Homo sapiens: one gene and its partners. The protein of the gene in region 2 interacts with the protein of the main gene of each other region in a pairwise test. Each region holds a gene or a part of one and is shown on either strand. Other genes may lie near its edges.

The links.
Region 1: the proteins of ITGB4 (region 2) and POU2AF1 interact in binary tests that used the Homo sapiens proteins (3 or more experiments, as listed by UniProt).
Region 3: the proteins of ITGB4 (region 2) and S1PR3 interact in binary tests that used the Homo sapiens proteins (3 or more experiments, as listed by UniProt).

The regions. Positions count from the first base shown.
Region 1 is NC_000011.10:111,355,266-111,362,289, reverse strand, and holds part of POU2AF1 (POU domain class 2-associating factor 1), read left to right. Parts: intron 1-2,899; exon of another isoform or gene 2,900-3,018; intron 3,019-3,371; coding exon 3,372-3,502; intron 3,503-4,452; coding exon 4,453-4,495; intron 4,496-4,579; coding exon 4,580-4,845; intron 4,846-5,856; coding exon of another isoform or gene 5,857-5,874; exon of another isoform or gene 5,875-7,024. UniProt on the Homo sapiens protein: Transcriptional coactivator that specifically associates with either POU2F1/OCT1 or POU2F2/OCT2. It boosts the POU2F1/OCT1 mediated promoter activity and to a lesser extent, that of POU2F2/OCT2. It recognizes the POU domains of POU2F1/OCT1 and POU2F2/OCT2.
Region 2 is NC_000017.11:75,731,450-75,738,473, forward strand, and holds part of ITGB4 (integrin beta-4 isoform 1 precursor), read left to right. Parts: intron 1-362; coding exon 363-524; intron 525-713; coding exon 714-790; intron 791-2,040; coding exon 2,041-2,243; intron 2,244-4,601; coding exon 4,602-4,705; intron 4,706-4,838; coding exon 4,839-4,937; intron 4,938-5,115; coding exon 5,116-5,245; intron 5,246-5,287; exon of another isoform or gene 5,288-5,772; intron 5,773-5,872; coding exon 5,873-5,995; intron 5,996-6,088; coding exon 6,089-6,195; intron 6,196-7,024. UniProt on the Homo sapiens protein: Integrin alpha-6/beta-4 is a receptor for laminin. Plays a critical structural role in the hemidesmosome of epithelial cells. Is required for the regulation of keratinocyte polarity and motility.
Region 3 is NC_000009.12:88,994,454-89,001,477, reverse strand, and holds part of S1PR3 (sphingosine 1-phosphate receptor 3), read right to left. Parts: exon of another isoform or gene 5,336-7,024; intron 425-5,335; 5' UTR 278-424; coding exon 1-277. UniProt on the Homo sapiens protein: Receptor for the lysosphingolipid sphingosine 1-phosphate (S1P). S1P is a bioactive lysophospholipid that elicits diverse physiological effect on most types of cells and tissues.

The DNA.
Region 1 (7,024 bases), on a different chromosome or scaffold from region 2:
GCTTGAGGGGATGGGTGCTTTATTTACCCTGATGTGATGAGTGTGCATTGCATGCCCGTATCCAAATATCTTGTGTACCCCATAAATATATACACTGACTATGTACTCATAAAGATTAAAACCAAAAATGCTGACGTGGCCATGGGGTGACCCTGAGAAAGAGTGAGTTGAGTGTGGCAGGGCAGGTGCCCTGTTCGCTGACACGTCAGATTGTACCTGGGGCCTGTGGTCATCGCTGGGCACCACCCAGCAGTAGGGAAAGTGGCAAATGGAACTTGTGCAAGAGTGACTCACCCAGAAGGAAGGTGGGGAGACTAAAACCATGTCATTTAGAAATAGCTGAAGGAATGAGAAGTCCCTTCAGACCTAGGGGGACACCTGGTATCTGTCCTCAGATTTCGGAAGGGAATATTACTACTAATACTCATGATAATCGGAGCTCACATGTATTAAATGCTCTGTGCCAAACTCTATTCCAAGCACTTCACATGCAAATCTTAAATTACCCTACAACATACATACCATTATGATCTTCACTTTATAGATGAGACAGCTGTAAATGGACTAAGAAATGTGAGTTTCATTAGAAGGTAATGGAGGGAAATATGGCATGTGTTACCATAAGTTAGCCTCAGTAGGAGGAAGAGCTGTCTGACATGATAATATCCCCCCGAAAGGAAGGTGGAAATGGCCAGAAGGAAGATAATTAAAACCACATGTATTGAGCATCTACCCTATGCCAGACATGGCCTTTGGAGCTCCCCATGTATTATTTTGGTTAATCCTCACAACCACTGTGTGAGAGAAGAATTATTATTCCCGTTTTACAAATGAGGAAATTGAAGCCCAGAGACATTAAATAAATCTAAGAACTTTCCACCAGTAAGTGACAGCCCAGATTTGAATACAGGTATGTGTGGTTCTCAAGTCTACTGTCATTGGTGTTCAGAGCAAAGGTGGAGGCGCACAGGTGGCCCCGGGGCACAGAACCAGGCTGGTTCCCCTGCTAGACACTCCTATAGCAGCCTGAATTTCACAAGTTGTGACACATTCATCTGCTGGTAACTTTTGTTGCTTGTCTTCCCCGTTAGACTGCAAGATCCACGTGGGCGGGGGCTCCATGGGTCCTGTGCAGTGCTGTACTCCTAGGCACTAGAAATATTTGAAAAAATGAATGAATACCAGTAGAGATCTCTTGTTCAGACAGGGGAAGTTAAAATAAGGATAATGAATCTCCTATTGGGATGTTATCGGGAGATTCTTATGTTAAATTAGGAATGGATTATCAGCAGTTGTAATCCCAGTATATTTTCAGAAATACTGGACAGATTTTTTTTTTTTTTTTTTGAGACAGAGTCTCTCTCTGTTGCCAGGCTGGAGTGCAATGGTGTGATCTCAGCTCACTGCAACCTCCACCTCCCAGGTTCAAGCCATTCCCCTGAGTCAGCCTCCCAAGTAACTGGGATTACAGGTGCCTGCCACCACATCTGGCTAATTTTTTGTATTTCAGTAAATATGGGCTTTCACCATGTTGGTCAGGATGGTCTTAATCTCCTGACCTTGTGATCCACTCACCTCAGCCTCCCAAGAGAGATTTTTATACATACAGATTCCTAGGCCTATATCAGCCCCCTAGAATCAGACTTTCCTGGAGCAGGACCTGTACCTGTATATTGCATCATTTCCTGGTTGATTTGCTACCTGGCCAGCTGAGGGACCTTGGAGGATGGGTCTAAAGTCCACCTGAGATACTGGGATTCCTGACCCCCAACATCTGCCCCTGGGACTCATTTCCCACTTCCTGTTGCCTCTGCCCAAGCTTCTCTCTGCCTTCTGGGCTTCAAGGCCAGGCCTTGCTCGTGGCTGGAGCCTGGAGGGAGGTCTGGTGCCGAGTCAGGCATGGGACCTTATCAGCTGGGTATTTACTGAGCAAAGTTCAACCAGGGCAGTGCTGCAGATCCGGGTTTAACAGATACCTAGGCTTCCGGGACTTTGATTCAGAGCCCAGGTCCCTGGGGCCCTTATCGGTGGATAATAATGGGCTCCCTGTGGAAGTCCTAAGGTCTAGTGTTTCTTGGCTGACCCAGGCCTGCTCTCTGAGAGCCCAGGATCCCTAGGCCACAGGCTGTCTAGGTGGGCAGCTTGTTGCTTCCCAGCCACGGCTGCTTTTCAGTTGCTCTCCCAGGCCAGGAAGGGCCCTATGCACTGGCTCTTATTTGGGTCAATGCTTTGGTTTCCTGGCTTTGATGGCAAGAGGGGAAGGAAACCTTCCCTCAGCAGCAGGTGGACACTGTCTGGCCCCAGGGTACAAGGATCACCCTTGGGTAATTGTCCCATGCCCTGAAAGTCACTGAGAACCTGGGAGCCACTTGCCTCAATCCTAAAGGTGTAGGAGAGGTGAAGGGAAGACAAATGGCAGCATGTCTTAAAGAATCACCCAATCGATTAATCAATAAGTATCAACTGAGCTTAAAACGCATGGGCATGCCACTGGGAAGACATAGAGAAATAAGGTACAATAACTCACCTTGAGACGTTTATAATCTAGTTGTGGGTATAAGACACTTCCATCAAAAAGAATAACTATTACATAATAGACTGAATTTTTTTGAATGCCTACCCTGTACCTGAATTTATTTGAGGCATATACTGTTCTACCAATTTCCCACATCAAGTGACTTCTCTCAATATTCCTTTGATAAAGAAACTGAAGATTAAGAGGCACAGAGAGGTTTAGTAACTTGCCCAGGATCACACAGGAAGGTGGTGGCAGGGGCAGGATTTGAGGCCTGTGCTATCTGGCTCAGAGTCCCTGCTCTTATGGCTGTCCTCTACTGCCACCTATGATGAATACTAATCAGATCTGGAAATGTTTGAGAAGCTGTAGAATGTGGAAATTACTCAGGCTGCAGGGGTCAGGCAGGAGGGTTGCATTTGTCTTGTGTCAGCAAGAATCAAGAGGTTGGAAGAAGTGAGAGGGAATTCTGACCACGGAAAACCTCAACCACAGATGAGGAGGTGAGACACGCAGGAACACGTAGAGAACACAGACAGACCTTCTGGTTGGAGACAGGGTTTGTGTAGTAGGGAGTGTGCAAAGTGGTGAGAAAAATGGGTTCGGATCTCATTCTGAAGACTGTCCAATTCTAGGACAAGGAGCTGGGCCTTCGTTGTCTGGGTGCAGGGGACCCACAGAAGGTTTGGGAGTAGGAGGAGTGACAATACTGGAGAGGCATTCTAGGAAGTGTCACGTGGTTCTCCGTGTTCAAGCACGACTTAGGGGAGCAGGCAGATCCATGAGGAAATGAGCACTTTGGGGTGGGGGCTCGTCTGAGAAGGACCATGGGCTCCAGGGACATTGCTTTTCACAGCCACAGCTCCGGAGCAAGCCCCAGCCCCGGCCCGGCCATACCAGGGCGTCCGTGTGAAGGAGCCAGTGAAGGAACTGCTGAGGAGGAAGCGAGGCCACGCCAGCAGTGGGGCAGCACCTGCACCTACGGCGGTGAGAGTTTGTGTGTGTGAGAGTGTGAGTGTGTGTGTGTGAAAGAGAATGTGTGTGTCAGGGATAGTGTGAGAGTGTATGTGTGTGTGAGTATGTGTATGCGTGTGTGTATGTGTTTGTGTGTGATAGAGTGTGTGAGAGTGTGATAGTGTGAGAGAGAATGTGTATCTGCGTCAGTGTGTGAGAGTGTATGTGTGTGTGAGGGAGTGTGAGTGTGTGAGTGTATGCATGTGAGTGTGTATGTGTTTGTGTGTGATGGCGTGTGTGAGTGTGTGATAGTGTGAGAGAGAATGTGTATGTGTCAGTGTGTGAGAATGTATGTGTGTGAGAGAGTGTGTGTGTGTGAGAGTGAGTGTGAGAGTGTGAGCGTGTGTGTGAGAGAGTATGTGTGTGAGGGAGTGTGTGTGAGAGAGTGTGTGAGTGTGTGAGAGTGTGAGTGTGAGAGTGTGAGAGTGTGTGAGAGAGTACGTGTGTGAGAGAGTGTGTGTGTTTGTGTGAGAATGTGTGTGCGCGCAGGCAGATGGCTTGGGAGGTGACCAAAAGGATCAGGCAGGAAGGAGCGCAGGTCCCTTGGTGGAGGCTGCCAGGGATAGAGCTAGGGTGGAGCAACTGGGATGAGGGATCAGGGCCGGCTCAGCTGGCCCACCGAACACAGCTACTGTCAAGGCCTGAGTGAGCGAATGACTTGCATACCCTGGTGTGAGTTGGGGGCCCCCCCTGAGAAGAAGAAGACACCAGCTCCCTGAGCGCACAGACTTCCTGCTAAATAGAAACGCAAATCTCTCAAGTGTAGGTGGTGATGGTTGGGATACGGGGTGGGATGTTTTGTTCTAACCAGAGAGATTCCTATCTTCTATTCTCCTGCCCTGAGGCCCTCTGGGCAAGTTCTCTGCACAGGGCCGGTTGACGAGGGCTAAACATTGACCCTGGTCTTCTCCTCTCCCCTCTAGGTGGTGCTGCCCCATCAGCCCCTGGCGACCTACACCACAGTGGGTAAGAGTGCCCCGTAGCCCTGGTGGCCCCCAGGCCTCTCATCTGGGTGGCATCTGAAGTTCTGTAATTTCCTTCTTCCCACAGGTCCTTCCTGCCTGGACATGGAAGGTTCTGTGTCTGCAGTGACAGAGGAGGCTGCCCTGTGTGCCGGCTGGCTCTCCCAGCCCACCCCGGCCACCCTGCAGCCCCTGGCCCCATGGACACCTTACACCGAGTATGTGCCCCATGAAGCTGTCAGCTGCCCCTACTCAGCTGACATGTATGTGCAGCCCGTGTGCCCCAGCTACACGGTGGTGGGGCCCTCCTCAGTGTTGACCTATGCCTCTCCGCCACTCATCACCAATGTCACGGTATGTCACACAAAGGCAGGACTGCACCCGCCCATGCTGAGTGCACCCTTTTATAACCAGAGCTGACTTCTCGATCCTGATCTTCCTTGCTATTGATTCTCAAGATAATCAGGTCATCAGAGCTCGCCTTGGTCTCCATGGAGGCCTGCTCTGATTCTCATTTCCTGAGATAACTTCCACAAAGATGTCTCGCAGCCTCTCTCGTCATACTTTCTGCTCCTCAGGACTGGGGAGGTCTTCTCTGATTCCCTGTTCTAAATCTCCCCAGCTTCCCTGCAAGCAGTGAGTCTTGGTTCTGAGTTGAAGTTTTTAGTGAATGTGGCACCAGGCGAGATCTACATGGGGTCTTGTGTTGGAACTAGCCTTTCATTTCTATTCAGATAACTTAGGGAGTGATTGTTCACTTAATAATGGGGTTTAACAGAAGATTTCTAGGCTGAACAACAGGTGATATTTTTGATGGTGTCAGACCCACGTGTGGGGTAATTTTTTAAAGTTCTGTCTCTACTGTCAGATTGCCTTGTTCAAATCCCTGTCCCTTCACTTACTAGCTATGTGACTCTGGGTTTAGTGACTTAAAACTCTCTGAGCCTCAGTGTCCTCATCTGTAAAATGGGAATACCAAGAAAAGGGTCGTTGTCAGGATCAAATGAAATAATGAGTGTGGAGGGCTTAGCACAGTGTCTGGCATACAGAAACCACTAATATATGTTAGTTATCATCATATCAAAATCTGCTAACATTAACCAAGGGCTTGATGGGAAAGGAAGAGCCTCTTCCCCCGGGAATGAAGGAAGGAAGGGAAATAGATTTATGTTAATGATTCCTGTTCGACTAAAGGACTGGGAATTTTGCAAGTATTCAAGGGCAAAAAGACCTGTGGTTACAGCTGTATCCAGCTCCAGTCCAGGGAAACCGTGGGAAGTAGAGCTGGGCCTTGAGCAGTCCCAGAGCCCACCTTCGATGGTGGTGCTTGCTTTGGTCCACCTTGTCTCTTCCATTTCCCTCCAGGGTCCAGTGTCATCCTGATGCACCTGCCCCTGCCTCCAAGCACCTTCTATGAAAGGCCTGCAGAAGCCCTTCCCTCCCAGGTCCACCTGCCTACCCAGCAAACCAATTTTGGAGCCTGGATGATGATAGATAAGAAGGAGTTAATCCAACACCTCTCCCAGGCAACTCATTTCCATGTCAGAGGCCTGGGGTGAGGGTGGTGGGTGGAGGACTCACGGCTCCCACCCATTTCATTACCAAGGATTCCTTTCATTATTTATCCCCTTTCATCATTCCCACCTTCTGCTTTGAAAGGTTCTGTATATCAAACAAACAGTATTCATTAAGAATTGATTTATTTGTTTTGCCATTTTGTAAATTAAGTCATCAAAGCTGGCTAGAGCTGTAAGTCCACACTCCTGATCAGCAGAGATAAGACCTGCTGTGTGCTGAGTGGAAGTAATTGTATTCCCGAGCAAAGAAACCTATAGTTACAGGTTTATGACTGGGAAATGTAGAATTTCCATCTGGATTTTTGAAAAGCTGGGAATCATGAGGCTTTCCCGGATTCTGTCTGGTTTCAGGACACTGGGATGGGGACCACTGGCTTAAGTCAAAGGAGAGGAAGTGATTATGCTGTGGTGGGGTGTACACCTCAGCCCGGATTTCAGGAGGCTGGAAGGCCTCTGAGACCATTTCCAGCTCTATCATTCTGTGCAAAAACACCCTAAAGCCTTGCTACTCAAACTCTTGTCCCTGGACTGGCCACATTGGAGTCCCCCTGAGATCTGATTAGACATGCAAAATCCCAGGCCCCACTCTAGACTTCCTGTGCCAGAAGCTGCGTTCTAACAAGATCCCCAGGAGGTTGAGAAAAGCCCTGCCCTAAATGATTCTAACAGTTTGCTGTCAAGACACAGTGACAGTAGGAGGGATATATGACAGGGGAGACAGGGATGGTAGGGGGAGATTTTGGCCTCCCTCTCATGAATCCATGCAGAGAGCATCCTCTTCTATCTGCTTTCCTCAAGTGTGAAAGAAAAGTAAGAATCCAGGTCCCGCCCCTGTTGCAGGCCTGATCTGAGGTTTGTGAGGGCAGTCGCCGTGCAGGTGAGAGGTATGACTCGCAGAGCATTCAGGAGAAGGACTCTAACACTTGGAGGGTCATGGGGGGTGCCCATAAGTGGGA
Region 2 (7,024 bases):
AGCGTGGCCCCTGGAGTCAGGCAGGCCTGGGTGCAGATCCCTGGGCCTAGCCGCTCGGATGAGCCTAGGTTGCTCCTCTGCTTGTTGGTTTCCTCGGCATGCAAGCGTCGAGCCCGGAGGCTTGCTGGGGCAGTAAATGGGTTAGTGTCACGAAGCCCAGAGGCCCTGGCCACTGTCATTGTCGCTATGATTGTGACTGCGCTGGGAAGGAGGGAGTTTCCAGCCCTGAGGGAGGTGAGCAGGAGCTCATTTCAGGGATCCAGACATCTCCTAGGAACTTGGGGGCCGAGGGCCTTCAGGCATCGATGGCCCCCTGGTCCTTGGGGCTGGGCCTGCCTTGGCTGACCACGGGGCCCCTGCAGGGTATATACCAGGTGCAGCTGCGGGCCCTTGAGCACGTGGATGGGACGCACGTGTGCCAGCTGCCGGAGGACCAGAAGGGCAACATCCATCTGAAACCTTCCTTCTCCGACGGCCTCAAGATGGACGCGGGCATCATCTGTGATGTGTGCACCTGCGAGCTGGTACAACGCAGCCCCGCAGGGCGGGAGGGGAGAGCTGAGCCAAGCACCCAGGGACCCTGAGGAATGAAGCAGGACTCCTGTGCCCCATATCCCTTGTGGGGTTTCCCGAGGCACACAGGAGAGCGGAAGTGTCCAGTGGCCCCGGTCCTGCTCCCCCGACGCACCCCACCATGGTCTCTCTCATTCCAGCAAAAAGAGGTGCGGTCAGCTCGCTGCAGCTTCAACGGAGACTTCGTGTGCGGACAGTGTGTGTGCAGCGAGGGCTGGTGAGTGGGGAAGGGAGTTGGGCACCCAGGACACCAGTGGCCCCTGATGGGAAAGCTGGGCTCCTGCAGGGGCCTGGCCCTGGGTGCACCTTGTACACCTGGCTGGGGGTGGGGCGGCAATCAAAGAAACGGCTAAGGGCGGGGCACACCCAGTTGTTGGTCAAACCCAGGTCAAAGCACTTTGAAATACAGAGATATATGGGCTGTCTCTAGAAAGAGGTGTGAGGATTGAGACGGGGTTGGCTGTTGGGGCTGGGGTCTGGATCTTGGGGGACAGGCACACGAGGCTTCCTTTTTGCTCCATGCCTTTGGTATTCTGAGTCCTGTGTCATATTGCCTGATCAGAAGAGAGCTCGTAAATGCACGGCAGTAAGGGCTTTAGCTTCAGGACACTGGGCGAGCTTGCCACAACTTGAGGCAGAGCAGTGGGGAAAGGACACTGGAAGGGGTGACATGACAGGGCACTGGGGTTTAGGTCTCAGCTCAGCCACTTCTGTCTGCATGACTGGGAGCTGCCTCGGCCCTCTCAGAGCCTCAGTTTCCTCATCTGTAAAATGGGACAGCAGGCCAGGCGAGGTGGCTCACACCTGTAATCCCAGCACTTTGGGAGGCCGAGGTGGGTGGATCACCTGAGGTCAGGAGTTCAAGACCAGCCTGGCCAACATGGTGAAATCCCATCTCTACTAAAAATACAAAAAAGTAGCTGGGCGTGGTGGTGCATGCCTGTAATCCCAGCTACTCGGGAGGCTGAGGCAGAATTGCTTGCACCTAGAAGGCGGAGGTTGCCGTGAGCTGAGATCGCGCCACTGCACTCCAGCCTGGGCAAGAAGAGCGAAACTCTGTCTTGAAAAAAAATAAAATAAAATAGGCCAGGCGCGGTGGCTTACGCCTGTAATTTCAGCACTTTGGGAGGCCGAGGTGGGCGGATCACAAGGTCAGGAGATCGAGACCATCCTGGCTAACATGGTGAAACCCCGTCTACTAAAAATACAAAAAATTAGCCGGGCGTAGTGGCGGGTGCCTGTAGTCCCAGCTACTCAGGAGGCTGAGGCAGGAGAATGGCGTGAACCCAAGAGGCAGAGCTTGCAGTGAGCCAAGATCGCGCCACTGCACTCCAGCCTGGGCGACAAGGCGAGACTCCGTCTCAAAAAAAAAAATAAAATAATTAAATTAAATTAAATTAAATGGGACAGCAAAAGCCCCAGCTTTCCTCCTGGGCTGTTTCGGGGAATGACCAGTTCCTCCTTCAGGAGTGGCCAGACCTGCAACTGCTCCACCGGCTCTCTGAGTGACATTCAGCCCTGCCTGCGGGAGGGCGAGGACAAGCCGTGCTCCGGCCGTGGGGAGTGCCAGTGCGGGCACTGTGTGTGCTACGGCGAAGGCCGCTACGAGGGTCAGTTCTGCGAGTATGACAACTTCCAGTGTCCCCGCACTTCCGGGTTCCTCTGCAATGGTGAGCACAACAACTGCGGCCAATGCTGATGGCGGGGTAGGGAGTGGACAGCAAGCATGACTTTCCCGTCAGGACCCAGGTTGGGAGAGCCAGACTTGGAATCAGAATCCCCAAGTTCAGGCCCAGCCCACTCTGGATGCCCTGAGGGCCGCCCCTGAGTCCTGCCCCAACCTGGGCCTGACTTCCCTCATCTGTAACGTCCATGCCCAAGGTCACTGTTGGCAGGACTTTCCCCTGGTTTTAAGATTCCAACTCCCCTGAGGTTCTCTCTGGAAGTTCAGTTCTATGCCCACCCCACTTCTCCACACCCCTATCTCATTAGAGTGGGTGCCACCCAGCTCAGCCCTCCAATGGCTGGCAGGTATATGGCATTATGATCTTTCCTCTCTCCAAAGATGCTAAATTTCTGTGGGTTTTTTGTTGTTGTTGCTGCTGTTTTTTTTTTTTTTTTTTTTTTTTTTGAGACAGAGTTTCACTCTTGTCGCCCAGGCTGGAGTGCAATAGCACAATCTTGGCTCACTGCAACCTCTGCCTCCTGGGTTCAGGCGATTCTCCTGCCTCAGCCTCCCTAGTAGGTGGGACTATAGGCATGCACCACCATGCCCAGCTAATTTTGTATTTTTAGTAGAGACAGGGTTTCACCATGTTGGCCAGGCTGGTCTCGAACTCCTGACCTCAGGTGATCTGCCCGCCTCAGCCTCCCAAAGTACACATCTGTAATCACACCTGGGATTACAGGTGTGAGCCACTGAGCCCGGCCCAAAGATGCTAAATTTCTACCTGGAAGGCCTGGAGCTTCCTCTGTATTCCCATGGGTCCAGGCCATAGGCATACAGTCTGGCCAGGAACATCAGAGCTGGGCAGGATCACAGAACTCAGACAAGGGGACATAGGGAAGGATTGGTAGTTGAATGGAGGAGGATGAATGAAAATCTACTCATCAAATACTTATGAAGCCCTCACTGTATACTTTCCAAGCCCCTGCTTTTCTACTCTTTCTTCTGTTCTTGCTTTTGTTCACCATTTCTTCTCTTCGACTGTCTGTCCCTGAGTGTGCTCAGAGAAACAGAAGAGAGAACTGGGCACCACTGGAGAAAGGCAGACAAGTGGCACAGAGGGAGGTATGAGAGAGGAAGGGAGGAAGGTGCCTCTGGGGAAGGAGGCAGGGCCAGAGTACAAAGGGCTTCGGTTCTAGTCCAGAGCAGGACTTCATCCTTTGGACAAAAGGGGGTCACTGGAGGTTTTACTTTCATTTTCTAACTATTTGCATATTAACCTTGTATCTAGTCACCTTGCTAAACGCACTTATGAAATCTAATAATTTGTCTGTAGATTCTTCTGGATACTTTGTGACATGTTCCTCACACTTGCAAATAAAGACAATTTTATTGATTGATTGATTGATTGATTTTTGAGACGGAGTCTTGCTCTGTCACCCAGGCTAGAGTGCAGTGGCATGATCTCAGCTCACTACAACCTCTGCCTCCCAGGTTCAAGCAATTCTCCTGCCTCAGCCTCCCAAGAAGCTGGGATTACAGGGGCCCACCACCAAGCCCAGCTAATTTTTGTATTTTTAGTGGAAATAGAGTTTCACCATGTTGGCCAGGCTGGTCTTGAACTCCTGAGCTCAAGTGATCCTCCCGCCTCGGCCTCCCAAAGTGTGGGATTACAGGTGTGAGCCACCACGCCCGGCTGACAGTTTTATTTCTTTTTTCTTTTCTTTTTTTTTTTTTTTTTTTGAGACGGAGTCTTGCTCTGTCACCAGGCTGGAGTGCAGTGGCGTGATCTCGGCTCACTGCAACCTCTACCTCCCGGGTTCAAGTGATTCTCCTGCCTCAGCCTCCTGAGTAACTGGGACTACAGGCATGCGCCACCATGACCAGCTAATTTTTGTATTTTTAGTAGAGACGAGGTTTCTCCATGTTGGCCAGGATGGTCTCAGTCTCTTGACCTTGTGATCTGCCCGCCTCAGCCTCCCAAAGTGCTGGGATTACAGGCGTGAGCCACCTTGCCTGGACTTATTTCTTACCTTCTAATGCTTATACATCTTATTTCTTTTTCTGACCTTATTGCATTGGCAGGGACCCATTAGAGGTTCTTAGCCAGGGGAGCAGGAGCCACATGATTGGATTTGTTTTGAGATAATTACTCAGGCTGCAGAGTGGAAGGTAGGTAGGATGGAGGCAGAGATGGAGGGAAGGAGATTCCAGGAAAGTGAGGAAGAGATGACTTCTACCCCAGGCTAGCGGCACCCTGGCTCCCACAGCTCTGTTCCCACAGGCCCTCCCTGCCAGGTGGGCAGCCTGGACTACAGGCACAGATGTAGCTCTCATCTCCCTTCCTTGTCCCTCTCTGCAGACCGAGGACGCTGCTCCATGGGCCAGTGTGTGTGTGAGCCTGGTTGGACAGGCCCAAGCTGTGACTGTCCCCTCAGCAATGCCACCTGCATCGACAGCAATGGGGTAGGCCTGGGCATAAGACAGACAGTGTCTGTCAGCACCACCCACCCTCTCCAGAGAGAACCCTATGGAGAGAGGAGAGGGAGCAGGCAGGGATGGGGCACAGCTGGCTCACTGGTGCCCCCTCCTACCCCAGGGCATCTGTAATGGACGTGGCCACTGTGAGTGTGGCCGCTGCCACTGCCACCAGCAGTCGCTCTACACGGACACCATCTGCGAGATCAACTACTCGGCGGTGAGGCTAAGACCTACGAGGTGTGGGCGTGGGAACAGGGCAGGCACAGGGCAGTGTGGGCAGGAGGGGCTAAGCCTGATGCCACAGGAGCTGGCCAAGGGCAAGAGGTTTGGGGAGCGGGGGTCTGGCAGAGGCCCACCCAACACAGTGCCTGTCTGCCCCGCCTTTCCCCGCCAAGATCCACCCGGGCCTCTGCGAGGACCTACGCTCCTGCGTGCAGTGCCAGGCGTGGGGCACCGGCGAGAAGAAGGGGCGCACGTGTGAGGAATGCAACTTCAAGGTCAAGATGGTGGACGAGCTTAAGAGAGGTAGGGGCAGGGGCTGAGGGTTGGGGTTGCTGAGAGCCTAGGCAGCGGGCATCCAACGGGGCAAGGGTGTCATCACCTGGACGGGGGCTTGCAGTCTGGGCTAAGGTCACACAGTCCGGACAGGAACTCCAGAGCTGGGAGGGACCACAGAACCCAGATAGAGGACACCGAATCCCAGAAAAGGGTAAAAGCCTGAGCAGGAGGCACAGAACCCAGGCGGTGGGACACAGTCTGGCCCAGGAAGGGACCAAGAGTCTTGGTGGGAGGCACCTGACTTGGGCAGGGGCATGCACCCAGCAGGGGTACATGGTCACGCTGTGGAGACACGCAGCCTCCCCTCCTCGAGATCAGATACGTTTTCTGGACCCTGAGTTCCTGGGTGATGTCCAGGTCAGGGAAGTGGGGGAGGTAGGTTTCTAGGCTCTGATGCTCCTGAGCAGGGGAGCCCCCACCACACCCGTTCCTGTGCCTGGTGAGAGCACGGCTTTGCAAGGACTTCCACTCTTCCCCAGGAGGCCCTGCCGTGGGTGAGGCAGATCGCAGAGTAGGGGCCCCCTCACCAGACCCTGGGTCCTCTGGGGCGGAGGGGTGTGGCTGGGGTGCCCTGCTGACTGGCTGTGGGTACAGCCGAGGAGGTGGTGGTGCGCTGCTCCTTCCGGGACGAGGATGACGACTGCACCTACAGCTACACCATGGAAGGTGACGGCGCCCCTGGGCCCAACAGCACTGTCCTGGTGCACAAGAAGAAGGGTGAGCTGGTGGGGCCGGGCGCAGGGAGGGGGCGTGTGGCCAGAGCTCGGTGGGGAGGACAGGCACCACCTCCCCCTGCCTCCTCCTCTCCAGACTGCCCTCCGGGCTCCTTCTGGTGGCTCATCCCCCTGCTCCTCCTCCTCCTGCCGCTCCTGGCCCTGCTACTGCTGCTATGCTGGAAGTACTGTGCCTGCTGCAAGGTGAGCACCCAGGGTGCCTCCCAAGGCCCCACATCCCAGGGTCCCCACCCCAACAGGGCCCCCACCCTCCACCAGGGTCCCCAGTCCCCGCCTGAGTTCTCATCTCCCCAGGGTCCCCAACCCCTTCCTGGGTCCCCACCTCCCCAGGGTCCCCATCCCAACAGGGTCCCCATCCTCCACCACGGTCCCCACCTCCCCAGTGTCCTCAACCCCCTCCTGGGTCCCCACCTCACCAGGGTCCCCTCTCTGACAGGGTCTCCACCCTCCATCAGGGTCCTCCTCAGGGTCCCCAACCCCCACCAGGGTCCCCAGCCTCTCCACCCACCATCCCCACTCCTGCAGCTTTCTAGCCAGAGGCTTCAGCCCGTAGAGTCCAGCTGTCTGGATTCTGGTCCCAGCTCTGTGACCTTGGGCAAATTACTTAATCTCTCCATGCCTCAGTTCCCTCATCTGTAAAATGAAGATCATAGAATTGACCTCAGAAAGTGGAGCTGAAGCTTAAATTAGTGAAGTTCAGAAGGGACTGACCCATAGCATGCACCATCGCCCCCACCCCCACCTTGGCAAGACCCACACCAACCCCATCCAGCTTCCGGAGTGACAGTAATGATGATGACACCCATGAGCTCTTAGCCCGAGTCATCCTGGAGCCCCAGCCCCCAGCTCAGCCCTTGCCAGCATCCGTTCTCTGCTTAGCTCAGTGTTCCTCTTTGTGCTGTCGCCACAGCATGTCCACGTGACTCCATTTCCCCGCCCCCCATCACCCCATGAGGTCAGTGGGGCAAGGTCACCATGCCCTATGACAGATGGAGAAATTGGGGCTGAGAGG
Region 3 (7,024 bases), on a different chromosome or scaffold from region 2:
TGTAAGCGATGCCGGCCAGCAGGTCGCAGAGAGCCAGGTTGCCAATGAAAAAGTACATGCGGTTGTGAAATTTATTGTTTTTCCAGATGGCAATCAAAACCATCAGGTTCTCCAAGACGATGAAGCTGCAGATGACCAAGAAGAGCACGGTGGTGAGCGTGCTGCCCTCGGAGGCCTCCTTCAGCCTGCCCGCCAACTTCCCCACGTACTGGTAATGCTCCCGCAGGGTCTCGTTCCCCCGCACCGGCTGGAGACGCGGCGGGAGGGCAGTTGCCATCACTTGGCATTCACAGACGATTAGCTCCAAAATCCACGAGAGGGCGCCCCAGGAACATTCATTTCAAAGGGAAGCGGGGCTGAGGTTCCGGCTTCATTCAGCAAGGCGTGCAGGCCAGACTCCAGCGAGGGCGTTGAAAAAGGGCTCCTGCCAACAGATAAAAAGAGGGAGCGACCATTGATAAAACGATCGCCGCCTAAGGGGCCACGGCAACGCTGTTGGAGAAAGGCATGAAAAACGTGGAAGTACTGGGATGGCTAGCCACGTCAGGCTGCAGAGAGGGTCTTTAGACACAGGCTAAATTCCTAAGTGATTGGGGGACACCATGGGAAGCGATTTGGTGTCTGGAGTTGCCGGGAAGGGAAATTCAGTGCATGAATTATTGAATCCTGTAACAAAGATACACAGACCCAAGTACAGCTTCCATCTGGAAATCTCCAGGCACTAGAAAATGCTAACTAGTCCTCATCTAGGGCATGGGAGCTGGTGACCCATTATCCCAGTTACTCAGGGAAAAGCAGGATTTTCTCAGGACCAAAAAGCAGGATGGAATCTGAATGATGCCGGTTCAATTTCTAAAACCTCCCTGGTGAGTTTTACAGTGACATCGTGGGAAGATCCCGCACTTCCCAGATGGCATCCCCTGGATCCAGGCCCAGAAATCAGGTCTGTATGGGCTGTAGGTCGGCCTGGCAGAGAGCCCTGAGGCCTGACCATGCAGCCATCGAGGGACCAACAGTGCATGTCTGGGCAGTGCCCATGCAGACACCGCACTCGTGAGCAGTGAGTCCAGAGCCCAGCGAAGACAGAACATCAACCTGCAAAAACGGGACCCAAGTCTACAGATGATAAAGGAAGGACAGGAAAGCAGTGACAATCACACTGACTGAGTCTGGCTTGAAATTCAGAGCCCTGAATATCAAATAGAGCATGGGTGCATGTGAGCCAACAGAAAAGTGGCACATTTGGGAACACAGCGAGAGAGGGAAAGTGGTGAGTGAAGGCCTCAATGGATTCTGAATTCCAAACTCTTCCCCCACGAGACCTCAAACACTTGCACTCAACCACACCTGGTAATATCGATCAGCCTTCTGTGATGTTGATGACGCCACACACCCAACTATCAAGGTAGAAACCGCTTTCAGTGGACTCACTTATTTTATTTTATTTTTTATTTTTATTAAAAAAAATTTTCTTTTGAGACACAGTGTTGCTCTGTCACCCAGGCTGGAATGCAGTGGTGCGATCTCGGCTCATTGCAACCACTGCCTCCTGGGTTCAAGTGCTTCTGCTGCCTCAGCCTCCCAAGTAGCTGGGATTACAGGCACCCGCCACCATGCATGGCTAATTTTTGTATTTTTAGTAGAGACGGGGTTTCACCATGTTGGCCAGGCTGGGCTCGAACTCCTGACCTCAAGTGATCAGCCTGCCTCAGCCTCCCAAAGTGCTGGGATTACAGGCATGAGACACCGCACCCAGCCATCATTTATTATTTGAGTATTTAAATATGTAATTAAGTTCAAATGAGGCTAATTTAAAAGAGCCTACTGTGTGTATCCAGTGAATTTTTTTTAACTTTTACGATGTTTGAACCACAGCCCTAAATTTGCTTCAGAGACACATGAACAACTCACCAATACTATGGGCTCTGCATTTTAGGGTGTGATTGACTCTGAATCTCATCCATGCATGAGTTTATTCCCAGGTACAAATCAGTCCCTTGAAGATCCAGGGCTTGCCTGGGTGGGGCTGAGAAGCAGAGGTGGCTCCAAATGGTTTCTGTATCCTCGTGACCCTCTGGAGTGCTGAATGCTGTCAAAGCCCTCCTCTCCCTACATCAATTTGGGGGACCTGGATTTTCTGAGATGGCCCCTTGCTTCTTTGCAAAGATTTTTTTTCCAGTGTCCTGGAGCTTGGTGGTGTTGGTTGCTCTGGAAACCCCGGGGGCGGGGGGTTGGCGGGGGGTAGGATGTCTGAGCTGACGTCTGTGCTCTGCCTGGAACTGCCCTGACCCTTCCCAGCTGCCGCCTCCTGAAGTCACAGAGGCCTTGGGTCGAGGTCAGCTGGAATGCCAAGTGCTGGCAGAAAGGCTTATGTGTTGGCCAAGGCCCTCTGCTAACTGCAGAAAGAAAAAGCAGCCAAGTTCCAAGTCCAGGCTGATGATGCAGGATGAGAGGAGGTTGCCTGCCCAGATCTCTCCCATCACTCATGAGCCATGACAGGCAGCGCAGGGCCCGGGGCCTGCCTCCTCGAGCTGTGGCTCACCCATGCCAGCCCTACTTGGCTTCCCATTCACCTGAGAAGAGACCATGTCTTGCCTGTAGGTTCTCCTGGAGGCAAACAGGACAGTCCAGTGGGCAGCCTTCCCCCCAGCCCCTCCCTCTCTACCGTTTCTGAATTTTATTTAAATCTTGCCCATCCTTCAAGCCTCAAGTCAAATTCCACTTGCTCTGTAACATTTTCTGGAATCATGCCAGCCCCTGGTGACTTTTCTCTGAGGCTGCATGCCACTTCTGAAAACGTACTGCAAACTGTCTCTTTAAATGGGGCAATACCACAGTCAGCAGCATTTTCTGAGCATTGAGCTTATCCATTAACACAGGGACTTTCACCATGGGTAAGTTCACAGTACCCTCCCCAGCATCCTGTACACTGATGGGTGCTAAAAAGATACTGTCCTTTTAGTTGTTTTTGTTTGTTTTTTGTTTTGTTTTGTTTTGTTTTTGGGATGGAGTCTCATTCTGTCACCCAGGCTGGAGTGCAGCGGTGCGATCCCGGCTCACCACACCCTCCGCCTCCCCGGTTCAAGCGATTCTTCTGCCTCAGCCTCCTGAGTAGCTGGGACTACAGGCGCCCGCCACCATGCCCGGCTAATATTTGTATTTTTAGTAGAGACGGGGTTTCACCATGTTGGCCAGGCTGGTCTTGAACTCCTGACCTCAAGTGATTGCCTGCCTTGGCCTCCCAAAGTGCTGGGATTACAGGTGTGAACTACCACACCAGGCCTAGTATTGCTTATTATTTCTTTCTTTCTTTATCTGTGAACAGGAACTGGAGAATCACTATTTCTGATTTTCACTTTGCTGGGTTTCCACCCCTGATCAGGGGCCTCTCAGGGACACATGTGCTATGCCCGGCATGCACCCTGGCATGAAGCCGGGTATGAAGACAACCTGGGCCATCAGGCTGTCTCCTGCCACCTCCGGTACCACTGCACAGTGCTGATGGGGACCGCGAGGGCTCTGCCGTTTCCCACACGAACAGCCACTCATGCTCATGGAAAAGGCATGGAGCAAAGGCAGTCTGTGAACAGTGCCCTGTGCCAGCATCCTCCCTCCCATAGCAACTGGGGCCAGAGCCCTCACCATGCTGCCAAATGGATGACCTGCCCGGCTCACATTGCAACCAGAGGGGCCATCACCTGGCAGACAGCCAGCTATCCATGACACCACAGTGTCCTGGTTTATCCTACAGATTGCTGGGATACCCACTCCAGTATGTTGGGTTTCTGTCCCAGAAACCGACAAGCTGCAGACAAACCTTGGTTCCAATGTCAGTGATTCCTGAGGCCCCTTTTCCCCAGCTCACGTAGGGATTCAAGTACAGCTCCATGTTCCTCATCCTTTTAGGTAATACTGGCATGTCGTTATGATTCAGACTGTTCTTGTACTAACTCAGCTTGCCTCCTGTGCCTCAGTTTCCCCCATGACAACCTGACCCTACCATTTTATACATGTCCTGTCTCCTCTGAACCTTCTCCACACCTTTGCTTTTGCCATGCATCCAACAGCCAGATGTGGACTTGCTCCCGGGAATGGAGAGAAGAGGGTGAATAGACCCACGGCTTATACAAAAATTGATCAGAGCAGAAAACAAGCAAACAATTAAAAACTAATAACCAGCAATAAAATAACCCCAATAAACATAGTATAAGATTTGCCAGAGACCCATCAAAATCATGAATCTTGAGGGCAAACATATTTTCCCATTAATGTTTGATTTATCATTTCCCTTATAATTAAATATTCATCCCTCAAGAAGCATATTTGTCCAGAACATCTTTTGTTAAATATGATTCTCTGCATTTTGCATAAGTGGAAGATATCTGGCTGTCTTTGGAATCTAAAAGCTCATTTTCTCTGGATTATCAACATTTACAAAGCAGGCCTCATCCCAAGAGTTAAGTGCTGGGCTAAAGGCCAGATTGATTTTGGATGCGTCTACACATTATTGCGCACGGTTAAAAGCATCTCATGGACAAGAGTTCCCCTCCGCTCCTGAGGGGTACCAGCCACAGACCTCAAGTTTGCTAGAAGAAAGCTCAAAGCCCACCCCGCCCTGAGGCTCCTGGAGTCAGCAAGCCCTACTCAGGGCAAGAGGGGAGTCAGTCACTCTGGCGGATTGGTACTAACACTGCCAGGCACGGCAGGAGTGCTGGGCACTGCAGGCACCAGCAGGCCTGGGAGGCTGACCTGCCCCACCACACAGAGATCAGTGAGACCAGCACCCAGGCCAGCAACAAGATGGGCCGGACCCTGCAGCCTTCCTTGTGCCCCTCCTAGTCACCACCTGTCCCCAAGCATGACCACTACCTGGGATAGGACTCTCCCCTAGGTGAGTTTAGCCTGCTTCTGACCTTCACGTGAATGAAACCCTACAGGATACAATTGTGTCCATTGCTTTCCTCTCCCCATGATGCTTGTACGAGTCATGCACATAGATGCACCTGCATGCTGAATATTCTTGCTCTCATGGTGTGGGTAGATACACTACCCTCTATTCATTCTTGTTTATGGACATGGGGTAATTTCTTCCATGGCCCATGTGTTGATTATCATCAAGTAGCACTGCTGGGATTGATTGAGGATGTTCTCTTGGCGAACACATGTCCATGTTTTCGCAGGTCGATGTTGATTTGTGAGCGGTGTGTTGGTGTCTGAGATGGGCTTTAACCATGACTCGGAGGCACTGGGTTTCTCAGACCCCAGCCAGCCCATCTTGCAAAACTGGTGTGGGGAGAAGGGGCGGCCCCTAACAGAGGGCAAGACTGATGCAGTATTAGTGTTCACTCTTTGCTTTATTCCAAAAGTAAGTGTCCAGAGCTGGCAGTGACATTGTAAATTTGATCGCGGCTTAAATTCCACCTGAACACTTAGAAATAAAGCCAGATGCTGAGACATATGGCTTTTTGCAGACTAGTTTTGCATATATTCAGAGAGCTTGGCACATTACGGAAGACACAGGAGTACAGACAGCTGCAGGGTAGAGACGCTCCTCCTCATTAGCGGTGGTCTTCTAACCAATACAGATGCTGACACTGGGCTGCTCCCACTGCCCACCTCCACGGCACATCCTTGCCTGGTCGTTCCACTCTCTTCCAAGTGCTACACTAACACATCTCCCTGACCACCTGGGAAGACCCCCGCCCACCACCCAGCTCTTCAAGAGACTTAAGTATTTGATTGTCTGCATCTTCAGTCTTTTCATGTTTACTGAGAGACACTGCTTACATCTGAACTTACCTGAGTTCTACTCAATAAAGACCCCATTAGCTAAGGGTTTTCATGTCATCCTCACTAAGCTGGGTTCATCCAGCCTACCTCAAAGCATTTTAATACCAACACATTTTTTTTTTGTCGAGGAGGAATAAGACGCCTTCTGGAAGATGAGTATGCAGTGGATGACCCCAAGTTAGACCCTGCCAAGGTCAGAGGTGCCTACCTTCCCCCAACTTCCAAGGAGAAACATTGCTGGGAGGAGGGTGAGCCAGAGAGAGGAGGCCGGATGGATTCCAGATGTGCTTTCTATACTAGCGATTCGCTTTCTCTACCCATGTCAAGTTGAAAAATAAACAAACTATAAAAGGAAGAAAAAGAGAAAAAATAAAGAAAATGTTTCCACAGTCTGGTCTCCTTCCCAACACCCCCCTTTCTCTCTCCGCATAAAAGATAGGCACAATAAGATAGTAAGATAGCATCTTGGTCAGATGCAGGATGCTATATTTTTAATAGGCATGTACTCCCAGGGAAATTAACTAGTTCATCCTCCAAACTGAATCAAAACACCAAACATATGCCAACAAGCAAAATTTCTTGGAAAGCAAGATGTTTTTTAAAATTTCATTTAAAATAACTTGGAAAGGAAATAATGAGTCGGCCGTTACAAGGCTCCAGCAAAATTCCTTTGCTAATGAGTATTTTCCCTTGCTCTAGATTTCTTGGGTGACCTCGCTCTGCTTTTGGAGACAGTCCATTGCAAAATGCATGCTTCACACACCCAGCTGCACAGGCTTGGCCCATTAATGCAGCTCCCCTGAGAAATAACAACTGTTACAGACAAACCAGGTGAGGGTTTTGTATCTTTTCTCCCTTCTCTTCTTCAAAGCATGCAAGTCAGTGCACTTCCCTGGTTAGACTTACTGCTTCCCGGTGGCTTTTCCCCAAGTCCTTCTCCATCACAAATAAGGCTGGGACATTATGAGCTATCTGGGCATAGTCCAGGGAACCCCAGATATGGAGGCTGTGCCCCAGGAAACTCAGGCCCCGGCCCCGAGCATCTGCCTCCGTGAACACCATCCTGAGCTTCCAGACTTGTGTGTGGGAAGGCAAGTGCGTCTGAGCCAGGAGGTGTTTGACCGCTTTGCCTGTCCATGAGTCTTTTTAAACCTTCTCCATTCTGCTGCTGCTTCATGACAGCATAGGATAAATGATTCTCAAGATTTCCACAGGGATGAATCCACAGGGATGT